Linked DNA regions of Homo sapiens. The protein of the gene in region 2 interacts with the protein of the main gene of each other region in a pairwise test. Each region holds a gene or a part of one and is shown on either strand. Other genes may lie near its edges.

Region 1 (3,500 bases), on a different chromosome or scaffold from region 2:
CTGCTATTGTCTTACATGGCTGAGCCTGGGTAAGTCTTGTCTCAGTTCACACTTCAGGCCCCCAGTGAGTGAGGTGGCCGTGATGACGCTCTTGTTTAACAGGCAAGTAAAGCCAGGGTGTTGAACTCTACGGAAGTGGGCCGGGCGCAGTGGCTCACGCCTGTAATCCCAGCACTTTGAGAGGCCAAGGCAGGTGGATAAGGAGGTCAGGAGATTGAGACCATCCTGGCTAACACGGTGAAACCCCGTCTCTACTAAAAATACAAAAAAATTAGCCGGGCGTTGTGGCGGGCGCCTGTAGTCCCAACTACTCGGGAGGCTGAGGCAGGAGAATGGCGTGAATCCAGGAGGCGGAGTTTGCAGTGAGCTGAGATCGTGCCACTGCACCCCAGCCTGGGTGATAGAGCGAGACCCTGTCTCAAAAACAAAACAAAACAAAACAAAAAAATCTACGGAAGAAAGGAACCATGTGAAAGAGCGTTTGCTAATGATCTGTCTGTCTGATGAGAATTGTGTGTATAGATTTGTGTATACACAAATATGGATGTTCACTGTATAAATCAATGTGTAAATGTGTCCGAGAACTCCAGAGTTGATGAGGGCTTGTAATGCACTTAAAGGTAGCTCACCACAAGACAGTCTTCCTATCTGAAATCAGCATTGCAGTCCCAGCCATTTCCTGAAGCTACCACCCTCACTTTCTCCCCAACTCTGAAATGCTTTTCACTCTCTACCTAGGCTGAAGCCGACGTAGCTTCTCTGAACAGACGCATCCAGCTGGTTGAGGAAGAGTTGGATCGTGCCCAGGAGCGTCTGGCAACAGCTTTGCAGAAGCTGGAGGAAGCTGAGAAGGCAGCAGATGAGAGTGAGAGGTGAGAATGCCTCATCAGCCATCTTTTGCAGCTGCCTTTCCTGGTGGAATAAACCGGAGGGCTCCTGTGATCTTTGAGGTTTAAGAATTTTTCAGTCCCCTGGTGGTGGGATCATTTCCTCTATTGATCCCAGGTATAACTCGGTTGGTTTTGTTCATTTAGCATTAGTGAAACACCTACTATGTCCAAAGCACTGTCCTAAGCCCTAAGGTTACAAAGAAGAAGATGATCTTGTTCCTGCCCTTACAGAACTCACCATCTAATGAGGGAGACAGACATGTAAAGGAGAAATGTCAGGGATACAAGTTGGCCCTTTCACTCCTACTGACCACAGAGCAATTGTGCATTTTTTAAAGTGTAACTTTATTTTATAATATACAAGGAGGCTTAGGTGTAAATAAAGGAACTGTGGACTATCAGTTGTCAAAATAGCTTAACAAATAGGTGGAAGAAAAAACACAAAGCAGAAACATGGTCTGCAAAAGTAAAATATTTTGGACTTGGTCTTAGTAATATACACAACACACATGCACACAAATAGTCAGATGCTCGTGTGTTCTGAGCCCACCTCCACTGTAATCTGGCTGTAGCTGAATTATTACTCAGATTCAGCTTTGTGGTAGTAAAGGAAAGCATGGTTCGTATAGACCAGCACAGCCTTGTGTGGTCTAAAAGGCATTTTCCCTTAAGCTCAACTGTTGGAAGTAAGGATTTGCCATATTGCATAGAAGTACTTCAAGAGAGACTCCATGAGGTGAGAGAGCGTTCTGCCGCTTGAGGGATGGCATAGCATGAAGGGGCTCAGAGCACTGAATGTGTATCTGTCTGTGCTGTGACCTGGGCAAGTGAATGCAGTCAGTCATCTTGTCCATTTCTTACTCTTTGAAGTGACCCTACCACTAGGTACCAGGTATAAAGAGTGATTTCAGACTTTAGGATTAAAGAAGATTTTTAGCTAAACTTTTTAGGCCATTATTCACCGCTGCTTAGTGTTTCTTCGCTAACCAAGCATTTTGGACTTCTTTAAGATGACTAAGCATCTTACAGTGTACGCATAAGAGCAGTTTTGTGGCTGACTTCTTTCTGAAATATACTTGTTAGTGTACCTTAAAGGCAGTCTGGTAATGTTAGACTTCGGAGTAAAGGGGACTTGGGGATCATTTAGTCCCTTAGTTTTACAAATGAGAAAAGTAGGGCTCAGAGGCTGATGTGACTTGCACCAAGGCTCACAGCATATTTGTGGCTAAGCCAAGACTCCGACCCAGATCTCCTCAACTGTATTCCAATGCTTCATCAAAAGATAGTGGGCCAGATGTGGTGGCTCACACCTGTAATCCCAGCACTTTAGGGGGCCGAGGCGGGCAGATCACTTGAGGCCAGGGATTCGAGACCAGCCTGGCTAACGTGGCATAACCCCTAAATCTACTAAAAAATAGAAAACTTAGCCAGGCGTGGTGGTGCACACCTGTAATCCCAGCTACTCGGGAGGCTGAGGCAGAAGAATCGCTTGAACCCAGTAGGTGGAGGTTGCAGTGAGCCAAGATCACACCACCGCACTCCAACCTGGGTGACAGAGCGAGACTCTGTCTCAAAAAATAAAAATAAAAAAATAGTGGTTCACTTATACTGCCTACTTAAATTTTGATAAATGAATTCCATTTTACATGACTTGTTATTCCATATATCTGTAAAATATCATAGGTCATTTAGTATTTTTCTGAAACATTACACCACGCTATAGGACCCTAATATACACCATGCCATAGGACCCTAATACACTCAGTGTAGAGGACAGTGTCAGGCCTGTCTCCCAGCATTGCTGTCATGAAAGGGTTCCATTATAGGTAAAACTTAATTTGATGCATTCAGTTGAACCATAAGAAATTGCCATTATTACTTGTCTGAAATGGTCAAATATCAGCATTCTTTGTGGACTTAATAGTTTATTAAATCTAACATTAAGTCTAATATTTTTGTTTATGGGTGGCAGGGTAAGAAGATTCTTTGTAGAAAGAGGTATATAAAGATAAGTTTGATTTTGTTCTAGCTTTGGTTCATGTGCAAGCTGAGGCTTCCCACAGGAAAGGCAAGAAATCTCATTATCTTTTTAATAGTAAAGCATATTGGCTTTTCCGGTTTCATACTGCCAAGATTCAGACAGATTCCTGACGTGGTACCTTTCGTCATCATTAATGTTAGATGCCTGATAGTTTCATCAGTACTCAAAGTGAGAGAGTTCATTCACAGTGAACAGAGAGAAATGTGTCTCTTTTTTCCACCTTTAGCTCTGGAAATTGTTGTTTCCTGGTTTGGAAAATAAAAGTAGCTCTGTGCTCTATTTTGGTCTACCACTTACACTAAGCCTCACAAGCCACAGCAGTGCAGTGTGCATTTGGGAAGTTCAGCTCTAAATCTTGGGTTTTCTTGCTTGTCTTTCTTTTCAGAGGCATGAAAGTCATTGAGAGTCGAGCCCAAAAAGATGAAGAAAAAATGGAAATTCAGGAGATCCAACTGAAAGAGGCCAAGCACATTGCTGAAGATGCCGACCGCAAATATGAAGAGGTCAGATCCTGGGGCCCAAAGCCTTGTGGACACCCAGCAGTGGCCTTCAGGAAGCCAGGGAGCAAT
Region 2 (4,092 bases):
AGTAGACTGAACTCCCTTTCATTGAAAAAGGGACGATGAAGAAACATCAGCTCCTCTCCTGTTTATCATCTCTCCTGTTTCCTGGATATTTTTATTGCCCCCTAAGCTCGTGCTAGTCACATATAAAAAAAATTTTTTTTTGAGACAAGAGTCTCGCTCTGTCGCCCAGGCTGGAGTGCAGTGGTGCGATCTCAGCTCACTGCAAGCTCTGCCTCCAGGGTTCACACCATTCTCCTGCCCCAGCCTCCCGAGTAGCTGGGACTACAGGCGCCCGCCACCAGGTCTGGCTAATTTTTTGTATTTTTAGTAGAGATGGGGTTTCACCGTGTTAGCCAGGATGGTCTCGATCTCCTGACCTCACGATCTGCCCACCTCGGCCTCCCAAAATGCTGGGATTATAGAGGTGAGCCACCTAGCCCGGCCCAAAATCACTTAAATTTAAGATTAATCTAAGGGGATTAGTGAGCTTCTAACTGAAACAGTGTCTCGGGACTACATAATTTAATAAATCCAAAGAATTTAATAATTAGCTTAATGCACAGGGTTTTTTTGTACCTTGCCCATTCGCTGAACTTTTAAACCCTCCTACATATGAAAGAGGAACAGTACTCTTTAGTATTACATCACTGAAATTATAGAATTGCTCAGACTTGAGACTTTTGACAGTTTTTCATGAGAAGTCAGTTACATTAAATCACCCTTTGTTTGCTTTTCTGGACCTATTTTTGCTCAATCCCAGATAAAACTCCTAACCCAGGTTTGGGCTCAGCACTGATTTGGAAGCTAAAACGTTTTGAGATAAATACAAAATAGAGTCCCGTCCCAAATGACACAGGCCTTTTTAATAGCAACGAAGGTAAAATAAAGCAGGACAGCACGTCCTGAGGATGAAGTGTTTTGCAGACTCTTCTCATCGATCTGGTCAAGAAGGGAGAAAGGCTTTGGCCTCCCTGATCTTCTGCCTCACGCCTCTGCAGGACAAAGTGAGGCTAGCGTGGTGGCGCTTCAGGGATTCCAGGCGCCGGTGAAGCAGTTCGGTCTTGTCCACCTTTTCTTCCAAGTCCCGAAGAAGTGAGTCCTTGCCTAGAAGGCCGCACTTCTGATTCAGTCTGATGTTGTCCGTCCGCAGCCCCTCTCGGGCTTGCTTCGTCTTGGTCAGGATGTCTCTTCCTAGGGCGGCCTGGGCCTCGATTTCTGCCAGCTGTGTCTTTTTGCACGCGTTCTCCATGTCCATGAAGTGCAGCTTTTCCTTCACGTGGGTTATTACTTGCACACTGTTGGTCACCTTGCTGCGAAGTTTTAAAAGTTCCTCATTTCGTTCCTCAATTTTCTCATTGAAGGTTTGGTTCTCAATCTTCAGCTGTTCAAAGTCAATAAGAAGCAGACCCTGGGTCAGGTCCTCCTGGGTCCTCATCCTGGTTTCAAAATGCACCAGGCTCTGCTTCAGCTGAATGTTCTCCAGCCGCACGGCGCTCATCTCCTTCTCCTTTTTATCCTCCAACGCCTGGATCTGCTCCACCTCTCGCAGAGCAGCCTGGCGCCCGCCCCTCATCCGACAGCTGCCCATGGCCTGCATCACCACCTGCTTCTTGAGTGCCTGGAAGCGTCGCCACTCCTTCTCCACCCTGGTGAGCTTCTCCTGGCACTGCCGCTTCAACTGGCCCAGCTCCTGGTGGTACCACTGCAGGTCGTCTGCCTGCTGCTTCTTCAGCTCCTCCAGCATGCCCAGATGGCGCAGGTACGCTTGCTCTTTCTCGGGGGCCTCGGCCTCTGCGCCCCGGTCAGCCACCTCAGCGGCCTCCAGGCCCTTCTTTCTGCGCAGCGCCTCGAAGATCTTGTGCTGCAGGTATAGGTTGTAGCGCTGGGAGCGGTTCCGCTCCACCAGCAGGGAACGGTACTGGTCCAGGAGGTCGCTGCGCAGCTGCTGCTCCTGCAGCTTCTGGACCTCCTCGGACCACTCGAGGTCCTCAAACTCGTCCCTTCCATAGAGGCGCTTCCCCTCTTCCTGGCTTTTGGCCGGGCGTCCTTCCCCATCCCTCTCCTTGCTCTCCGCGCCGTCTCTCTGCGTCTCCTCCTTGTCCTCTTCCTCCCCCTCCACCCGCTCTGTCTCGGCCTCCGGGGCTGCAGCAGCCTCTTCCTCATCGATCCTGGTCAGCGGCAGAGAGGCCTGGAACCTGACTTCCTTCCCCTCTGCCGCCTGCTCCAGTTCCTCCGCCCCCGCCTCCGCCTCTAGTTCCTCGGGCCCGGCTCCGGGCTCCGGCTGGGCGGGCTCCTCAGCCCCAACCTCGGCCGGCTCTTCGGGCTCGGGCTGGGGCTCGGCCGGCCTCCCCGGCTCTCCAGGCCCCTCCTCGCCCGCAGCCTCGGCTGCCGTTAGCCCTTTCGGGGCCTCGGCCTGCTCGTCCGCGGCGGTGCCTCCCTGCGAAGCCGCTTGCTCCTCCTCCTCCTCCTCCGGCTCCGACTCCAGCTCCCCGGGTTCGGGAGAGGTCGGAGGGCCAGAGCTGGCCTTGATCTTGGACGGCCGCGCGGCCAGGCTTTCCCCGTCTCCGCCTTCCCCGCCGGGGTCCTTAGTGTGCTCAGAGCTGACGTCCATCTCCTCCCGGCTCGGCCAGCGCAGCGGACCCCGGCAGGACGCTGTTAGGTTTCCCGGGGCAACAGAAGGCGCGCGCGCTGGGCCCGGCGATTGGCCAGGCGACAGGCCGTCGTCCAGCGCCTTCTCCCCGCTGCCCGGCGAGAGCAAGCCAATGGGAGGCCGCGAGCTGACGATAGGCGAGATTGATTGGAAGCGGCCGTGGGCTCTCGCCGCGAGGGGCGTGGCGCCCCCGCCGGGCTTTCTGCCTGCCCATTTCCCACCGCCGGGCCTGGGGCGGGGCGTTCAGGAGGCTCTGGGAAAGGCGGCGGTGGCCGGCGCGGGGGGCGCGCAGGCGCAGAGCGGCGGGCCGGGCGTCCGCAAGGTGGCGCCCGCGGGGCGCCTGCGCGATGCGGCGGGGCGACAGCTGCGGCGGCGGTGGCGGCCGGGCCGGGCCGGACGGCGCCTGCGTACTGAGGGGGGACGCGGCCCGGCTGGCTGGCTCTGGCGGCGGCTGGGCTGGGGCCGCGGTGGCGGCAGCCGCGGCGGCGGGCGGCGGTTGCTCGTGCGCGGCGGCGGCGGCGGGTCCCGCGGGCGGCGGGGCGCTGACGGCCGGGGGCGCGGCGGCTGCGGCGGGCCGGGCGGCGGGCGGCGAGCGGGGGAAGATGGCGGAGCTGGGGAAGAAGTACTGCGTGTACTGCCTGGCCGAGGTGAGCCCGCTGCGCTTCCGCTGCACCGAGTGCCAGGACATCGAGCTGTGCCCCGAGTGCTTCTCGGCCGGCGCCGAGATCGGCCACCACCGCCGCTACCACGGCTACCAGCTGGTGGACGGCGGGCGCTTCACGCTCTGGGGGCCCGAGGCCGAGGGCGGCTGGACCAGTCGCGAGGAGCAGCTGCTGCTGGACGCCATCGAGCAGTTCGGCTTCGGAAACTGGGTGAGCGGCGCGACGGGGGCCGGGTCCCGGCTAGGGCACTGGAAGGCCCGCGCCTCTCCTGTAATCGGGCGCGCAGGCAGCGCTGGACCTGCTCGCTCGCTCCGCACCCCAGAAGGCCCCGGAGGTGGGGAGGGCGACGCTGCCGGTTTATAGTCGGGCACCTGTCGGAACCTATGCTCTGAGAGGCTGTGACGCGCCCAAGGTCACACAGCCGAGACGGGGCCGAGTGGGGCTTTGAACGCTGGCTTCTGACAGCAGAGCCATTTCCCTCACCTTCAGGGACGCCTTCACAGGCGTTTGCGGAGTGCAGACGTTGGGCAAGACTCGGTGCCTTACCTGAGTTCGTGGAGACAGGCAGGCCCACAGACTCGACAGAAAGCGGTGGGAGCACCAGGGAAGGAGAGCGGTGGGCGCCCTGCGGCTTGTCTCGGGGTCTCTGGGGCGGCCCCGTTTGCTTTCTGTCACTGTATGCATGTGCCCTGTGTGGTCCGCAGTGCACAGAGTCTTTTGTGGGTAGCGTGCCTGGTTTATGCTTGGGTCCCCACAACCCACGACCTTGTGCGAATGGTCAGTAAAGAATGAACAAAGAGG

Evidence for each region. The genes of interacting proteins can lie anywhere in the genome.
Region 1: the proteins of CFAP184 (region 2) and TPM1 interact in binary tests that used the Homo sapiens proteins (3 or more experiments, as listed by UniProt).

What each region holds. Positions count from the first base shown.
Region 1 is NC_000015.10:63,056,247-63,059,746, forward strand, and holds part of TPM1 (tropomyosin alpha-1 chain), read left to right. Parts: intron 1-738; coding exon 739-872; intron 873-3,316; coding exon 3,317-3,434; intron 3,435-3,500. UniProt on the Homo sapiens protein: Binds to actin filaments in muscle and non-muscle cells. Plays a central role, in association with the troponin complex, in the calcium dependent regulation of vertebrate striated muscle contraction.
Region 2 is NC_000004.12:7,040,349-7,044,440, forward strand, and holds CFAP184 (cilia- and flagella-associated protein 184), read right to left. Parts: upstream 2,654-4,092; 5' UTR 2,591-2,653; coding exon 923-2,590; 3' UTR 501-922; downstream 1-500. Other genes in the region: TADA2B (transcriptional adapter 2-beta), read left to right, coding at 3,232-3,501. UniProt on the Homo sapiens protein: In complex with CFAP263, acts as a regulator of ciliary beating that connects radial spoke 3 (RS3) to the inner dynein arm (IDA) and the nexin-dynein regulatory complex (N-DRC).